Linked DNA regions of Homo sapiens. The protein of the gene in region 4 purifies or fractionates together with the protein of the main gene of each other region. This does not show direct contact. Each region holds a gene or a part of one and is shown on either strand. Other genes may lie near its edges.

Region 1 (3,500 bases), on a different chromosome or scaffold from region 4:
TGTTGTTTCTTTCATTGGCAAACATTTAGTATGGACCTAATCACCCTCTAAAATTTCAGGGTGGTAGTAATTGGTGCTTCAAATATTCTTCATTACTTTGTAGCTAACATTTTTTAATGCCTGGAAGCCATATGAAAAATCAAAATTTTCTTAACTCAAGCAAATAAAGAATATATTCAAAGTTTTGCTGTGCCAGGATTTCATTTAAGCTCAATTTTGATCAAAAGAGAGTTGAAATAATTATTAAATATAACAGTCAAGTTTTTAAACCTAACTTTGTTATACTTTACTATTTAAATCTTGAAAATCATGAAGACTTACATGAACTTTGAAGTTTTTCTAGGAAAAGAGGATTTAACAATACTTATAGTGTCACATTTCATTTTAGATTACTCATTTTAAAGTATTTAAAAGACGTGAATGTAAATTTCCTTTGGGGTGTATTTTGAGTCTGTCAGTGTTGTGTATCTAGGCAGGACTTTGAGGTTGAGGTGCTTGCTTTTTTGAAATCATAATTCTCTAACTTGGGCCTGACTGTTACAGGGCCTCCAACACCAAGTGGCTCACGTGGCCACCCAGCTGGAAGCTGCAAGATTACTAACATACAATGCTGCTAGGCTTTTAGAAGCTGGAAAGCCATTCATAAAAGAAGCGTCAATGGCCAAATACTATGCATCAGAGGTAAAAAAAAAAAAAAAAAAAAAAAAGGAAAAAGTAATTCAGCCTTTTTTTTTTCAGATATATACTTATTAACATTTTCTCTTGGGAATGTTGATTGTACTTTGGTTGTTTTTCAAGTTAAGATAACATGGACTTTTATTTCTTATAATAGAAAAGCAAAAAAGGAAAACTGCCATAGGAAAACACTTGAATTCTGTGAGGTCTCAATGTTTCGTTGAGTAGCCCAGCTCAGCTAGACCACCCATCTCAAACTGCCATAGGAAAACCTTCAGTTCTGTGAGGTCTCCATGTTTCGTGAGTAGCCCAGCTCAGATAGACCACCCATCTCAAATCCATGGCTGAGCCTCCTCTGAATGAGGGTGTCATGCCTATGGTGTCAAGTTCGGGCAAAGTGAATGCCGTGGAAGATGATGGGTCCATCATGTGAACAAATCAGATTTAAAACACCAAGAAAAGATTGTCTAAAACTTTCTACTCATACATTTGCTTTCTAGAGCTAACACATTAGACTGAGGCTAGAGAATTTAGCCAAATCACTGGGCAGCTGTTTCGTAGCCTCAGCAGTATCTTATTCATTCCATGGCTTTAAATTCTCATTTAACCTCTCCAGCCCATAAATTAAATATCCTACCTCAACTTCTTTCTGAATTCCAGACTAACATGTCCAACTTCTGCTTCACCATCAGAACCTGAGCGTCATCTTGGCACCCTGCTTTCCCTCACCCCCCACATTGAGTCCAGCATCATTTCCTATGATTCTACCCCTAAAAGATTCCTTAAATGGTGTGTTTGTCTCCCTCTCCACTGCCACCTCTGTACTTCAGTCACCTCACTGCCCTCCTGGTCCCTGGTGCTTCCTCCCATCCAGCCTCTCTCCTTTTTCAAAGTGGCAGTGAGGCCATGTCACCTTCCAGCTTTAACCCTTCAGTGGCTTCTCACAACAAATGGAGCTCTATCTGTACTAGATTCCAATTGCTGCTATAACAAATTACCAAAAAGTCGGGGACCTAAAACAACGCAGTTTCATTTTCTGTCACTTCTAGAGGTCAGAAATCTGAAATGGGTCTCACTGGAATACAGGGGCTGCCTTTCTGTGGTTCTGGCAGACAGTTGTTTCCAGCTTCTAGGGGCTGCTCACATTCCTTGACTCGTAGCCCCTTCCTCCATCTTCAAAGCCAACAATGTGGCATGTTCAGATCTCTCTCTGACTCTGCTTCCTGTCTCCATGGTCACGTCACCTTCCATGACTAACTCTCCTGCCTCCTCCTTTTCCTTATAAGGATCCCTGTGATTATATCACAGCCACCCAGATAATTCAGGGTAATCTCTCCATCTCGTGTCCTTACCCACATCTGCAGAGTCCCTATTGCCATGGAAGGCAGCATATTCACAGCTCTGAGGGCTAGGATGTGGACGTCCTTGAGGGGCCATTCTGCAGGGTCTCTCGCTCCTCCATTCTCTTTTCACATTTCACCCCGATCCCAGCCCACTGGCTGTCTCAGGGGCTGGAAGTTGAAGAGCTCATTCTCCCCTTGGAGGATTTCGACGTGTTGGTCCTCAGCTTGAAATGTCCCTTAGCTCGTCCGTTAGGCCCCCAGTAAACATTTCCTGAATAAATGATATCTCTCAGCATGCAGATTCATGTGAACAATGCTCTAATTTCTTAAGAAAATGGGGATTCTGTGAATTAATAGGATGTTTTACAGAAATGGTATGGAGAATGGGACTGAAGAGACAATGCTAGTTTAGAAGATAACTTTAGTCCTTCCAGTGCCACTAACAGTAAATCCATGTTGCTGAAAATGTTACCCAGAAGTGTTTATCATGTATAAGTTATGTGGTTTCAGTGTGTGATTTGCACTTGCTTTTGGTAGATTGCAGGACAAACAACGAGTAAATGTATCGAGTGGATGGGGGGAGTAGGCTACACCAAAGATTACCCTGTGGAGAAATACTTCCGAGATGCAAAGATTGGTAAATAGATTTTTTTTTTTTACATTTTATTTTGTTTTATTTGCCTCTGTAGGTATTTTGGCTGTTTTATTTGTCGTTTTTTTCCTAGGTAAAAGCAATTTTAATTTCTTCAGTATATGTTTGGTGGCTCTATTTATGTGGCTGGATTTTTTTCTTACCTCGTCCTTCAAAAAAAATTGTTCTATATTTTTAAAAAATATCAAATTGCCTTTTTAAATGCCTCAACAGGCTTTTTAGTAAAACTGCCACAAATAACAGTCTGAGCTTATGCATCAATTGTTGAAGAATCAAAATCTTCAACTTTTGTTTACACCTTTAGTCAGTTTAATACTGATCCTGGACATCGAGAAACCAAATGGAAAATTGTCATCTCTTAGTCAAAATTACTGTGAAATAGTACCATATTCAGGGGACATGAAGTGATGTGACTAGTAACTGTTTTATAGCAAGCGCAGAGGTGATGTTTATAGAGCTATTTCTTGTCTTAACCATGCGCCAACTCCTCATTGTTCCTTCTGCTTCCTTTTGCTTAAGGTACGATATATGAAGGAGCTTCCAACATCCAGTTGAACACCATTGCAAAGCATATCGATGCAGAATACTGACGTCTATAGGAGTGGGACCCCTCCCTGGTGTCACTGCTGTAAAATTTTAAACGGTTGTGTCTTGTTGGGAGTAAGTGCCTTGCGTGGGAATAAACTTCCACAGCATTCGAATATTTTAATGAAGCCCTTAGTCAGGGTCCTGGTGTTGGCCTTTTTGGTTTTCTCTTTTCAGGCTGTTTAACTTAGGCACAGGAGATCCACTTTTAAACTTGGGAAATAAGCACCTGTATTTTTTTCCAA
Region 2 (3,500 bases), on a different chromosome or scaffold from region 4:
CATATGGTTTCCATTACCGCTCCAGCTTTCATCATATCCAGGACATGGGGAAGAGAAGAACATGGAAGTATACTCTTGAAATGATCTGAAGCATGAATCACCTGTACTTGCTTACATTCCATTGACCAGAACTCAGTTATATGGCTATAACTAGCTACAAGGGTGGCTGTAAGATGTACTGTTGGAATGGAGCTGGGGAGAATAATTAAATATAATTAAATTATATATATATAATTAAATTATATAAGTGTAATTAAAATAATTTATATCTAAAAGAAAAATAGTTTACAAATTATCCCATTAGCTAGGATTGATTGACCCTTTGTGTGATGGACTCTCTTAAAATTGTTGGGGTATGGGGGAAACTAGAGTATGATCAAGATGTAAGTATGTAATTGCTTTATTTTGATTTTATTTTAGCTTCCTTGTGGTCATAGATGCAAAGAGATGTGTCATCCTGGTGAATGTCCCTTTAACTGCAACCAGAAGGTAAAACTTAGATGTCCTTGTAAAAGAATAAAAAAGGTAAATATTTTAAGTTATTGAAAATACTTTTCTATATAAGTTGTTTTTGTGTGGTTTTCTTGTTCTTGTTTTTTGATCTATGTGTTTTGGTAGTTGTTTGGCTTTTTTTTTTTTTTTTGCCTTTTAATTTTGAGGTTTTACTTCATAGAACTTTTTTATTATTGAAATGAGCCTACTAGTTCTTTAAACATTTATTTTAAACATAAGCTTTGGCGATTTAATTTTCTGCAATTTAACAGTAAAAGGAAAATTATTTTTTATGTTGGAACCAAATTCAATGCCCTGTTTTGGTCAATGTGCTTTAGATTTGAGGTCTTTGAACAAGGAACACAATGTAACGGGTAGAATGTTTCATTGCTTAAGAAATGGCTTGAGATTAACTTTGTTGCTGTTATTTATGAAATTCTTTTTACCATCAGTATTGTCCTTTGAAAATATTGCCTTAAAAAGACCTCATATGAATAGCCTTATAAAGTAAAATAACATGTAAACTTGGAAAGAACTAATTTTAAGATAAAATGATGGTAACAGAGGAGTAAATGGGCAAAAACTAATGATTACAAAGCCTGATGGAAACAAACTATATACTGCTCAACAAAACTTATGAAGGAAAATATACTGTCCTAATAGTCTTTTTCTCAATTCTCTGTTTCCTTGATCTTCCCTGTTGGCAGTGCTTACTCCTTTGAAACCAACTTTTTTGACCTCTGATTTACCCTATCTCAGTTATAGTCGTAACTCCTTTTTTTTCCTTCATATTCCTATTGTCATTCCCTAAAGCTTGTCTTTTTTGTCTCTTGAAATTCGCTTTTATTCATCCATGTGATGGATATGTATTGAGGATCTTTTATAGGTCCTTTGCCTTTCATTTATGTTCATAGTTTCTGATATGTTTTCCTAGGATAGGGAACTTCTGAATTTAAATTTATACACTTGGCCTTTTAGGGAGTGGAATCTTTAAGTTTTAGATATTTAAATTGACCCCCTGTACCTGAAAATAAATACTTGGTCAAGCCATTTTTAATGTGAGATGTCTCTTAAGTTTTCTCTGAAATCTCATGTCTTGTCCAAGTGCCATATGCCACCCACCCGTTAGTACTTTGGAACAACTCTTTTCTGGGCTTTGGCCACAACTTCGTGACCCATTTCCTTGTCTCTAGTCACACCACTTCCCTGTTCTAAATTCTTCAATGGCTCTTCATCACTTATGGAAAAAGTGCATTGTATAAAAAATGTGTATGTGTAGGTATATGCAGACTCGGCATACCAGGGAGGCTATGATAAGACATTTGCCTGCTTGTTCAGTCTCGTCATCTAGCAATCATCTCTGTGAATCTGTTACTTAAGTGCCCTAATACATATATTGTACCCTCGCTTAGCTTAGGCTGTGGCAATGTATATATATTTTTTTCCTGTGTAAAATACAATATGTTTTTCCTTTAGCTCTCTGCTTACTAGAATCCTGCTAATACTTATTGGAAGCACTTCCTTGTTTGAGAAGGTTTTCCTTCCCCAGGTTCCCTTGGGAAGGCTTAGCTGTTCCTTCCTCTTGACTTTCTTTGTACTGGGTTCATAATGTAGAGCTTTGTGATTCTAGGTATCTGTAACCTTGTTTCCTCATCTGTAAAATAGAGTTTATAGAGATTTATTGAAAGGAATAAAAGAGGTAGTGCTTACATAGCATTTAAAACAATGCTATGTTTAATAAATAGTAGCTGCCATTACTATAAAAGAGGTAGTGCTTACATAGCATTTAAAACAATGCTATGTGTAATAAATAGTAGCTGCAATTACTATTGTTATTTATTTAGCACTTAACAGATGATTATACTGTTTATTTCTTACTGTGTTCCATTTCCCTGTCATGGTGTTTAGCATGTTATAGGCACTCTGTAAGTATCCTCTGAATGAGAAAAGATAAAATCCTCTTCTAAGCTGATGGACTTAATGTCTATAAACACACGATACTTATTTTTGTCTCCAGTGTTTGTTCATGTTAATTTTCTTATGTCTGGACTGTCTTTGGAGGACAAGACTATGTTTATCACTAAATCAAGCCAAAAATGAAGAACTAAGGAATAAAAAAAAAAAAACCCTCCAAGTAATAAAATTCCATGCCATAAAATGCTTTTACTAAATGCACTTTACTCAGGATTTGGTAATCTCATGTCTAAGCTGTGGTAGATTTGAACAAAAAACTAGAGTCTGAGGGTCTGGTGAGACAGGAGAAACTGATACAAATTAAATATACTGAGAGTAAAAGTGACATTGGCAGCAATAAATGAATGAATAAAAGATAGATGTACTACAAAAGGCAGTCTAAAACTAATATAAAGACCACTCTTCAACTCAGTAGGTCATCGTTTTATTCTGTCGTAGTACAGAAATTGGTCATAGTTTTGATGTCAAGACATCAAAAACAGTAGATCAGTGTTCTTTCATTAAGGAGGTAGTGAAGTGCCAACATAAGCTTTAGAACAATTTTCATCTAAACTTAAAAAAAGTTTAACAGTCGAGAGAAAAATTTGTAGCTCCCCAGAAAACTCTCTAGAGCTGCACTATCTGAGATGGTAGCCACTAGTCACATGTGGATATTTAAATGCAAATTGTAATGAATTAGCATAAAACAGTATTAAAAATTTGGTTCCTCATTTTCACTACCCACATTTCAAGTGCTCAGTAGCCATATGTGGCTAGTGCTACTCTGTGGACTAATGCAGATTTACAACATTCCATCCCACGCACATACCAGGAAGCTCTGTTGGACAGCACATTTGTAGAACATTGTATTCCCTGGACACTTTGCAAGAATAACAAACAATAAAGAAAAGTAAAGAATAAAAACAACATGGGAGCTAAGTCCAATAGTGGCACATAGTAATTATTAAGTTGATTTTTAAAAATTTTATGGTATTCTCTTTTTTAAGTTAAGAGAAAATAAGCAAGTAATCACTATTTGAAGCAGATATTTAATG
Region 3 (3,500 bases), on a different chromosome or scaffold from region 4:
GTCTTGGACTCCTGGGTTCAAGTGATCTTCCTGCTTCAGCTTCCTAGAGTGTTGGGATTACAGGTGTGAGCCACTGTACCTGCCCTGTAATTTTTAATTTTTTTTTCCCCTGAATATTTTCTGTCTGAGGTTGGTTGAATCAGAATTTAAAACCCATGGATGTGGAGGGTCAGCTGTATTTGAAAATGGATACAATATACCTAAGTGCCTAAGCACTGAAATTTCTTACTTTCAGGATAACCACCTTATGATGAATGCAGTTGCCCATTTTCTTGAAGACTTTTTCTTGTGGTTTTTTTCTTTCTTTTTTTTTTGAGCCGGAGTCTCGCTCCGTCGCCAGGCTGGAGTGCAGTGGCGTGACCTCAGCTCACTGCAACCTCCTCCTCCTGGATTCAAGCGATTCTCCTGCCTCAGCCTCCTGAGTAGCTGGGGCTACAGGCGCGCGCCACCAAGCCCAGCTAATTTTTGTATTTTTTTAGTAGAGACAGGGTTTCACTATGTTGACCAGGATGGTCTTGATCTCTTGACCTCGTGATCCACCCGCCTCGGCCTCCCAAAGTGCTGGGATCACAGGCGTGAACCACTGCGCCCAGCTCTTTAAGACTTTTTCTTATCCCAGTGCAGAGGTCAGGATTATTCCCGCATTTGAGTGCACTTAGAGGAGATAAGGAATTTGTCTCAGATTGCGAGCCAGTAAATGGGGGCTGTTAAAACCACTAGGTTGTTTCAAACTCATCATTCTGACATTACAGAGATCTTGCTTAGTGTTGATGGCCCTAGCCAATGGGTTAGTTATCCTTTCCAGTGTGTTTGGTCAGCTGCAAATCTGGATAAGCGTGTCTCCTCCACTTTGTCTGTGTTTACCAGTGGAGACCTCCCACCAGGTGGACATAAATGGTTCATTCTTTTGTGCTAATTGGGTGCCGTAATCCAGCCCCTTGGGAATCTGCCCACCCACACAAGGATGTGCTCAAGATTTTCAGGATTCTTTCTCTCTGCATTCCCTGAAGAGGAAATAATAAAGGAGAAAATAAAATCCACCAGTTTGGTAACCTTCCCAGAAAAGGAAATGAAGTTGGTGTGGCATGACTTGTTCTTAACGAGCTTTCTTTTCTTTTTTTTTTTTTTGAGACGGAGTTTTGCTCTTTTTGCCCAGGCTGGAGTGCAATGGCGCAATACTGGCTCACTGCGAACTCCGCCTCCCAGGTTCAAGCAATTCTGCTACCTCAGCCTCCCAAGTAGCTGGGTTTACAGGCATGCACCACCACGCCCCTCTAATTTTTTGTATTTTTAGTAGAGATAGGGTTTCACCACATTGGTCAGCTGGTCTTGAACTCCAGACCTCATGTGATCCACCTGCCTCGGCCTCCCAAAGTGCTGGGATTACAGGCATGAGCCACATGATTTGGTTCACAATTTAAAATCCGTGCTTTTGGGGAGACGTGACAACTCTGAATCCTGGAAATAGCAGTTTGAAAAGGGATCTTGTTTGAATTTTTGACAACTTAAGACTGAGTCTGGATTAATTTAGAGTTTCCAAAACTACCACTGAACCTAGAATTTGGGGATATTTGACATTCAGCTTCAGAACTAGGATCCCACATTTAATAGTGCTTAACTTCAGATTTTCTGTTTTACTTTTTTTTTTTAAAGGAGTCTTGCTCTGTCACCCACGCTGGAGTGCAGTGGCACAATCTTGGCTCACTGCAACCTCCACCTCGGGCTCAAGCGATTCTCATGCCTCAGTTTCTCAAGTAGCTGGGATTACAGGCACGTGCCACCATGCCCAGCTAATTTTTGTATTTTTAGTAGAGACGGGGTTTTGCCATGATGGCCAGGCTGGTCTCGAACTCCTGACCTAGGGTGATCCACCTGTCTCCACCTCCCAAGTGCTGGAATTACAGGTGTGAGCCACCTCACCTGGCCTAAATTCAGTATTCCTTAATGTTCTTTTTCTGAAGACAATCTGGACTTTTGCCTTTTTATAGTACCATAACATTTTCGCCTAAATTGCTCATTTGTATGTGTGTTTCACCATTACTAGAATATAGAGAAATTGGCCAGGTGTATTGGCTCATGCCTGTAATCCCAGTACTTTGGGAGGCCAAGGCAGGTGGATAGCTTGAGCTCAGGGGTTTGAGACCAGCCTGGGCAACATGGTGAAACCTTATCTCTACTAAAAATACAAAAATTAGCCAGGCGTGGTGGCATGTGCCTGTAGTCCAGCTACTTGTGAGGCTGAGGCAGGAGGATTGCTTGAGCCTGGGAGGCAGGTTGTAGTGAGCTGAGATGATGGCACTGCATTTCATCCTGGGCAACAGAATGAGACCTTGTCTCAAAAGAAAAAAAAAAAAAGTATAGAGAAATTGACTTGAGTGCTAGTTACAGGGCTGTGTACACTTATGATTTGTGCACTTTTCTCTATGGTATACTTTAAAAGTGGCTTTTAAAAATGTAGAAAAGTCATCTTCCTTCATGTCTTTGGAAAATTATGCTAATTGTGTTGGTGTTATTAACATTCTATATATTTCCATCTTTGAGGATTTATCTAATACATAGTTGGGCAGGGTTTAATTCTGAGAGATTTGAAATACACTGTCCTAAAGGGTATAGAAGAGAGTTGCCAGGTGGGGCGTGGTGGCTCATGCCTGTAATCCCAGCACTTTGGGAGGCCAAGGAGGGCAGATTGCCTGAGCTCAGGAGTTTGACACCAGACTGTGCAACATGGTGAAACCCCATCTTTACTAAAAATACAAACAATTAGCCGGGCGTGGCAGCGTGCGCCTGTAGTCCCAGCTACTCGGGAGGCTGAGGCAGGAGAATCGCTTGAAGCCGGGAGGCGGAGATTGCAGTGAGCTGAGATCATGCCATTGCATTCCATCCTGGTGACAGAGCGAGACTCGGCTCAAAAAAAAAAAAAAGAGTTGCCATTAATTTAAAAAAAAGTTTTAAGAGTCTGAATTGATGTACTGTTGTTAATATATTAATGTATGATTGTACAGACCGTATTAGAAAAGGAAAAAAAATCAGATACTTTAATGTACTCATTATAGATGTTACTCAAGTGTCATTCAGGGATCATACCTTTTAAAGTTACTCTGATACTTTTCCGTTACCTTCAACTTGAAAGCACAAGAGGTTTTGCAGGCAGAGATATCCATGGTCCAATCTGGTTCCTGTAAACATTCAACAAATTATCTGGACGTCTACTATGTGCCAGGCATTGATTTAATCAGTGAACAAAACATGCAAAAATTCCTGCTCACATGGAATTTACCTTCCAGTAGATCTCAAAGTTCCCTACTCTACTAATCACTGGTATAACCTGGAAAGAATTTATTGTTGGTTCAACATAGCTAAGGAGTGGCATGAAGTTCTGTAGCTGATGTGGGAAGTACCTTGCCAGTGTCTCCAGCACTGGGTTTTCTAGAATAATCCTCAAGCTTTATAGGTTAGGGGGTTGTGTGTTTACCACATCTTGCTGAGACTTGTCTTTTTCC
Region 4 (5,000 bases):
TTCCTTGCAGACTAAAGCAAACACCACCTTGGCTTAGCTGTCCCCCAAGACAGATGGCTCCATGCCTTGGCCCACGCTCCAGGGCTGGAGATGCCACCTGTGGCCTGGTCCTGAGACCACGGTGGGGTTGGGCACTAAGAGGAGCAGCCTCTCCAGGCAACAGCGGGAGGAGGCATCCCTCCCCACAGTGCAGAGGATGACAGATGGGGTTCCCAGGGACGCCAGAGGGCTCAGCTGGAGCTCACTGAGAGCTCCCCACGAAGGGACTGTTGTGCACGTGGCAATTTGCACATAAGTGCTTTCAAACGAAAAGGCGAGTGGAAAATAACCATGGGCTGAGGCGGCCGTGGAGTGGTAGAAGCCCATCCAAGCTCTGGGCATCCAGGGACGCGTCTTCACAGTGAGGACAAGCTCTGGGCTTTCGGGGATGTGTCTTCACAGTGAGGCAGCGGCGGGAGGGCAAAAGGCCAGCAAAGGCCGGGAGCAGAGCCGCAGAGACAGACAGAGGACACAGGGAGCGCCAACACCCTGCAAGGCTGCAGCCAGGCGGCACCTGCTTGCTCCAGCGCAGAAATGCTGCGGCCGCCTCCGGGGGCCAGACCCCGCTCTGCCTCCCCACTTTGTGCAAAGTGGGCCCAGATCCCGGAGCCAGAAGGGGCACAGAGACTGAGAGAAGCATCCAGACCCGGGACACGAGCTCCAGCCTACCTCCAGGCTCTGCCCAGAACGCACACACTTGACCCCACATTATCAATCCGAGGCCAGAGGGGCTTTTGTAAGAGGTCAGAGTGCTAGAGACCTCCAGGAGAGGCGCCATCTGCAGAAAGAGTCCCAAGGTGCAGCGGTGCCCAGGCCGAGTAACAGAGGACCTTGGAAACTTCACAAGTGCAGGATGGGCAAGGGATGAATGGGGGGCCCAAACCCACAGAGCACTGGCGGTCAGCAAGGACATGTCTCCTCTGCCTCCCCATCTCCATCTGTCTCTGTCTCTCTCTGCCTGTCGCTGTCTTCTTTCTGTCCCTCTGTATCTCTATCTCCATCTGTCTCTGTGAATTGGTCTGTCTCTACGTGTCTTTCCCTCTGTCTCTCTCTGCCTCTCCCTCCACCCCTCCTTGCTTTCTCCTGCTTACATTTACAGAAACTAGGGTCACACACACAAGATACAAAGAAAGGAAAAGAAACAGAAAAATCTCAGTTTCATTAGGGAACTAGTGGCCAGGGCTCGCTGGGCTTTGCAAGCGCTTAGGCCTCGGGCACTGCCTGCCTGCCCTGCCTCCTGCCCTGGGGCCGACTCCCAAGGCCCCTACAGATCCTCCGAGTCCTCCAGAGCCAAGGCCAGCCTTGACTCCCTCCAGCCCGGGGGGTGCCCAGCACCTGCGCCGCGCCCGGCCTGACTCAGAGTGGGCCCTGCTGACTCTGAACCCCCTTCCAGAGACACGTGGGCCTCTCCAGCGCAGGCAGCTGGGTGCGCGGCCACTCACCGTCGGCCCATTTCCGTGTAGATATTCAGCAGGGCACCTCCAATCAGGTAGCCGGCAGCTGGGCCCAGGATGGCCGCTGTGTAGAAGATGGCTGCGAGAGAGGCAGAGGCGTCAGGGCCGCTGTGCACCACCCAGGGGCTGCGGAGGGCCGTGTGGGGCCCCGTGCCTGGGAGAAGCCCCGCACCCGCCATTCTGCATCTCCGGCCCACTCCCCTCATGGGCCTCTTTAAGTTAGATGAGTCTGTGCAGTTGCCACTGGGCCTGATATGGGTCAGCATCAATCTTTAAAAATCCCCCTCAAAGCCAAGTGCACTGTCTTTCCCTTACGAAAGGGCAAAGGCCCTCGAAGCCCCGTTTGCAGGGCGTCTAAGTAGCCGCACAGATGGACACTGGCAGGAATTAGGGGCCCAGGGTGGGGAAAGGGACCAGAGAGGCCTGAGCCCCTCCGCCCAGCCACGCTCACTCTCCCACAGGCCGGGATTTGGAAGGCTCGGTGTGGTGGGACGTCCCCTCGCTGGAGTGAGGTGATCTCAACACCCGCCTGGGTTCTTGGGACGAGCACTGCCAGGTGACTGGGATGAGCAGAGCTCAAGGAGGACATGAGGAGGCTGAGGTCACTGCAGAGTCCGGCTGGGGCCAGCTGCTCCCCGTGACCATCCTACGATGCCCTTCCCGGGAGAGCCAAGCCAGGCAGGGGGACGCCGAGAAGTGGGGTCAGGCGGGCCGTGCACTGGGTCAACTCGGCCATGTCGGACGGGCCATGGGGCTTCCCTACATCTCAACAAACAGGAGCAGGAAGCCAGTGAGGGGCCCAGGGCTGCCCCAGGGCAGTGAGCTCAGCTGCCTAGCATAGAGTTATAACATAGATCTTTACTCTTAGATAGCTGTGAAGCAGCCATGAGCTGCTTCATGTTATTTTTCCCCTTAAAGTTCTGACTCTCCAGATTTGCTCGGTCTTTTCCACACCCCTATGTGGCTGCCGGAGCAGACACGGTGCTTACGGGCAGACGTGGGTGTGGTCTCAGGGCTCTGTCCCTCCACCTCTATGTGGCTGATGGAGCCAACATGGTGCTTTCAGGGAAACATGGGTGTGGCCTTGGGGCTCTGTCCCTCGTCACTTATCCCACATCAAACTCCTTCCCAGGCAAGTGCCAGGTTCCCAGCCGGAGCATGAGGTCTGCCGCCATTGGACCTGGTGCCACCCAGCGCCTAGTGACTGTGCCCCTTGGTCCTGGCAAGGTGGGCTGGACACCACGCAGGGGTTGCACTGAGGCTCCCGGGCACAGCGGCCTGGAGCCCTGAGCAGGGTCCACATGAGAAAGCCGGAGTCCCTTACATCAGCTTTGGGCCTCAGGGCGGACCCTCCTCCCCTGCCAACTCTTGCAGCAGCCCCAGGGCCATGCAGACAAGGGGTACACGAAGGCAGGGGGCGGGGCTGGCTCCGGCCAGTTACCCTCACTCCTGCAACACTGCCCTCAGCCACCCCTGCCAGCACTTACCCCGCCAGCCCCACTCACCAATGTAGACGGGCGAGCAGCTGGACTTGACGTTCTCATCCAGGTAGGTGACGCCCAGCGTGTAGAGGGGTGTGGCACCCACGCCATGCAGGAACTGGCCCAGCATGAAGACCAGCTGGTAGCGGGACAGGCCCGAGGTGCTGTCCGCACACACCGCGCCGGGGTTGGCAGGGCACGTCCTGACACCCGCGTCCAACTCCACCTCATAGCGGCCAGCCGTGAAGTGGGGCAGCGCGAACACCAGCGACCCCGTGCCCATAAGCAGCACGCCCCAGCCCAGCCAGCGCGGCTTGTGCCCTGAGCCCCCGAAGTAGCTGACGAAGGTGAGGCAGAGGCAGGCGGCAATGTCGTAGGAGCTGGCGATGAGCCCGCTCTGGTAGCTGTGCAGGTCATAGCGGCGCTCCAGGGAGGTGATGACTGTGTTGATGAAGCCATTCACAGTCATCCCCTGCAGGAATGCGGCCGCACACAGGAAGAACAGGATGCCCTTGGGCGTGTTGAGGACCTGCAGGCACGGCGGTGCGAAGGCCCACCAGCCGCACGCCACGCTCTGCCCGGCCGAGACGTACCGCACCTCATGGGTCCCCCGGGCGCCATGCTTCTCGGCCCAGAGCTGGCAGAGGGGCTGCTTGCTGGTGTCCAGGGGGCTATGGGCAGCGGAGCGGAGGGAGCCGGGGCTCAGGGGTGTGCCCGGGGATGCCCTCCTGCTGGGTGGGGTGTGGTCAAGCCCGTTTTCCATGGCTGAGTTGGGGCTGGGGAAGGTGAGCGGCTTGTCCCCCAGCTGATGCAGGGGCATCTCCGCGCCTCCGCCTGGTGACCTCGAGGCTTCAGCCACGCAGTGGGAGTGGCCTCAGCGGGAGTGGCCAAGTGGTATCCGAGGGGCTGGTGTGTCCTGTGAGAAGAATGTCTGGTTAGCAAGCTCACGTCTCTCCACGGGTACAGCACATCCAGGAGGGAACATTCCAGCACACCCATCACGGGGGTGGCTCAAAGCTCTGCCTGCCTTGTCTCAAGAGCCTCCCAAATCCAGGGTGGCGTCTGGCCAGGCCCACACCCAGGCACTGTGTCTCCCAGCCACAGCTCCGCTGCGGAAAGGTGGGGGGCTGTGCCCAGCTTGCTCACAGGGACTCAATTCCTGCCCTTTTTAGAACTGTTGGAAGGAGAAGCTGCCGCTTCAGCGGTGTGGCGTCAGGGCTGTGACGGGGGCAAGGCCTACTGAGATGGGGCCACGCGGTGGAGAGTGGAGCTGAGACGCAGAGGCCGAGTCAGACACTGGGGTCCCAGGTCACCCCGCCCTGGCCCCGCTCGCTGTGTCAGCCACGTCCCCTGCCATTTGCAGCCAAGTGGCCCTGATGGACTCCACCTTGGTCCTGGAGCCTGACCTTGTTCTTCCTTAAGTTCACACCCGGCAGCTCTCTGCACCCTTTGGCGTGAGGAAGGAGCTCCTCTCCGTGCAGAGTTTGGGAGGTGCAGGAATGAGCTGGAAGCAGCCTCCTGGGCCACGTGAGCCCCCAGCACCGGAAACACCCCCGGCCGCCAAGCTCCGGCCGCTGCTGGGTCAGCCTGTGGCTAACAGGAGTTGCAGTCGGCAGCCATGTAGACCAGTTACCAGGAGAACGTGCCCACGTGCCACCTTCCTTCTGAACCCTGCGCTGCCCCTGCCCCACTGCCCTCACCAGCCCTGTTCCCCACCATCCCGAGGCTCCACAGGGCACCGCCTCACTCCCCACACCAATTCCTGGAGCAACAGCTCCCCCCTACTGCCCAAGGCCTTCTGGGGAACCCAGGTGGCTGTAGCCTCTCTGCATCTTAAGGGCTTTCCCCGTCAGAAATAAACCGGCGAATAAACAGGGCTGCTATGATGCGGAACACCTGTGCCGCCCCCGCCCTGGGAGGGTCCTTCCCGGGGCTGCTGTGATACAGAACACCTGTGCCGCCCCCACCCTGGGAGGGTCCTTCCCGGGGCTGCTGTGATACAGAACACCTGTGCCGCCCCCACCCT

The links.
Region 1: the proteins of SLCO4A1 (region 4) and ACADSB purify together in Homo sapiens (affinity purification with mass spectrometry; one large-scale study listed by BioGRID and IntAct). This does not show direct contact.
Region 2: the proteins of SLCO4A1 (region 4) and NFXL1 purify together in Homo sapiens (affinity purification with mass spectrometry; one large-scale study listed by BioGRID and IntAct). This does not show direct contact.
Region 3: the proteins of SLCO4A1 (region 4) and OCLN purify together in Homo sapiens (affinity purification with mass spectrometry; one large-scale study listed by BioGRID and IntAct). This does not show direct contact.

Annotation. Positions count from the first base shown.
Region 1 is NC_000010.11:123,050,506-123,054,005, forward strand, and holds part of ACADSB (short/branched chain specific acyl-CoA dehydrogenase, mitochondrial isoform 1 precursor), read left to right. Parts: intron 1-543; coding exon 544-681; intron 682-2,555; coding exon 2,556-2,655; intron 2,656-3,189; coding exon 3,190-3,260; 3' UTR 3,261-3,500. UniProt on the Homo sapiens protein: Short and branched chain specific acyl-CoA dehydrogenase that catalyzes the removal of one hydrogen from C-2 and C-3 of the fatty acyl-CoA thioester, resulting in the formation of trans-2-enoyl-CoA.
Region 2 is NC_000004.12:47,852,084-47,855,583, reverse strand, and holds part of NFXL1 (NF-X1-type zinc finger protein NFXL1), read left to right. Parts: intron 1-420; coding exon 421-525; intron 526-3,500.
Region 3 is NC_000005.10:69,499,290-69,502,789, forward strand, and holds part of OCLN (occludin), read left to right. Parts: intron 1-3,500. UniProt on the Homo sapiens protein: May play a role in the formation and regulation of the tight junction (TJ) paracellular permeability barrier.
Region 4 is NC_000020.11:62,655,249-62,660,248, reverse strand, and holds part of SLCO4A1 (solute carrier organic anion transporter family member 4A1), read right to left. Parts: intron 3,891-5,000; 5' UTR 3,795-3,890; coding exon 2,999-3,794; intron 1,573-2,998; coding exon 1,482-1,572; intron 1-1,481. UniProt on the Homo sapiens protein: Organic anion antiporter with apparent broad substrate specificity.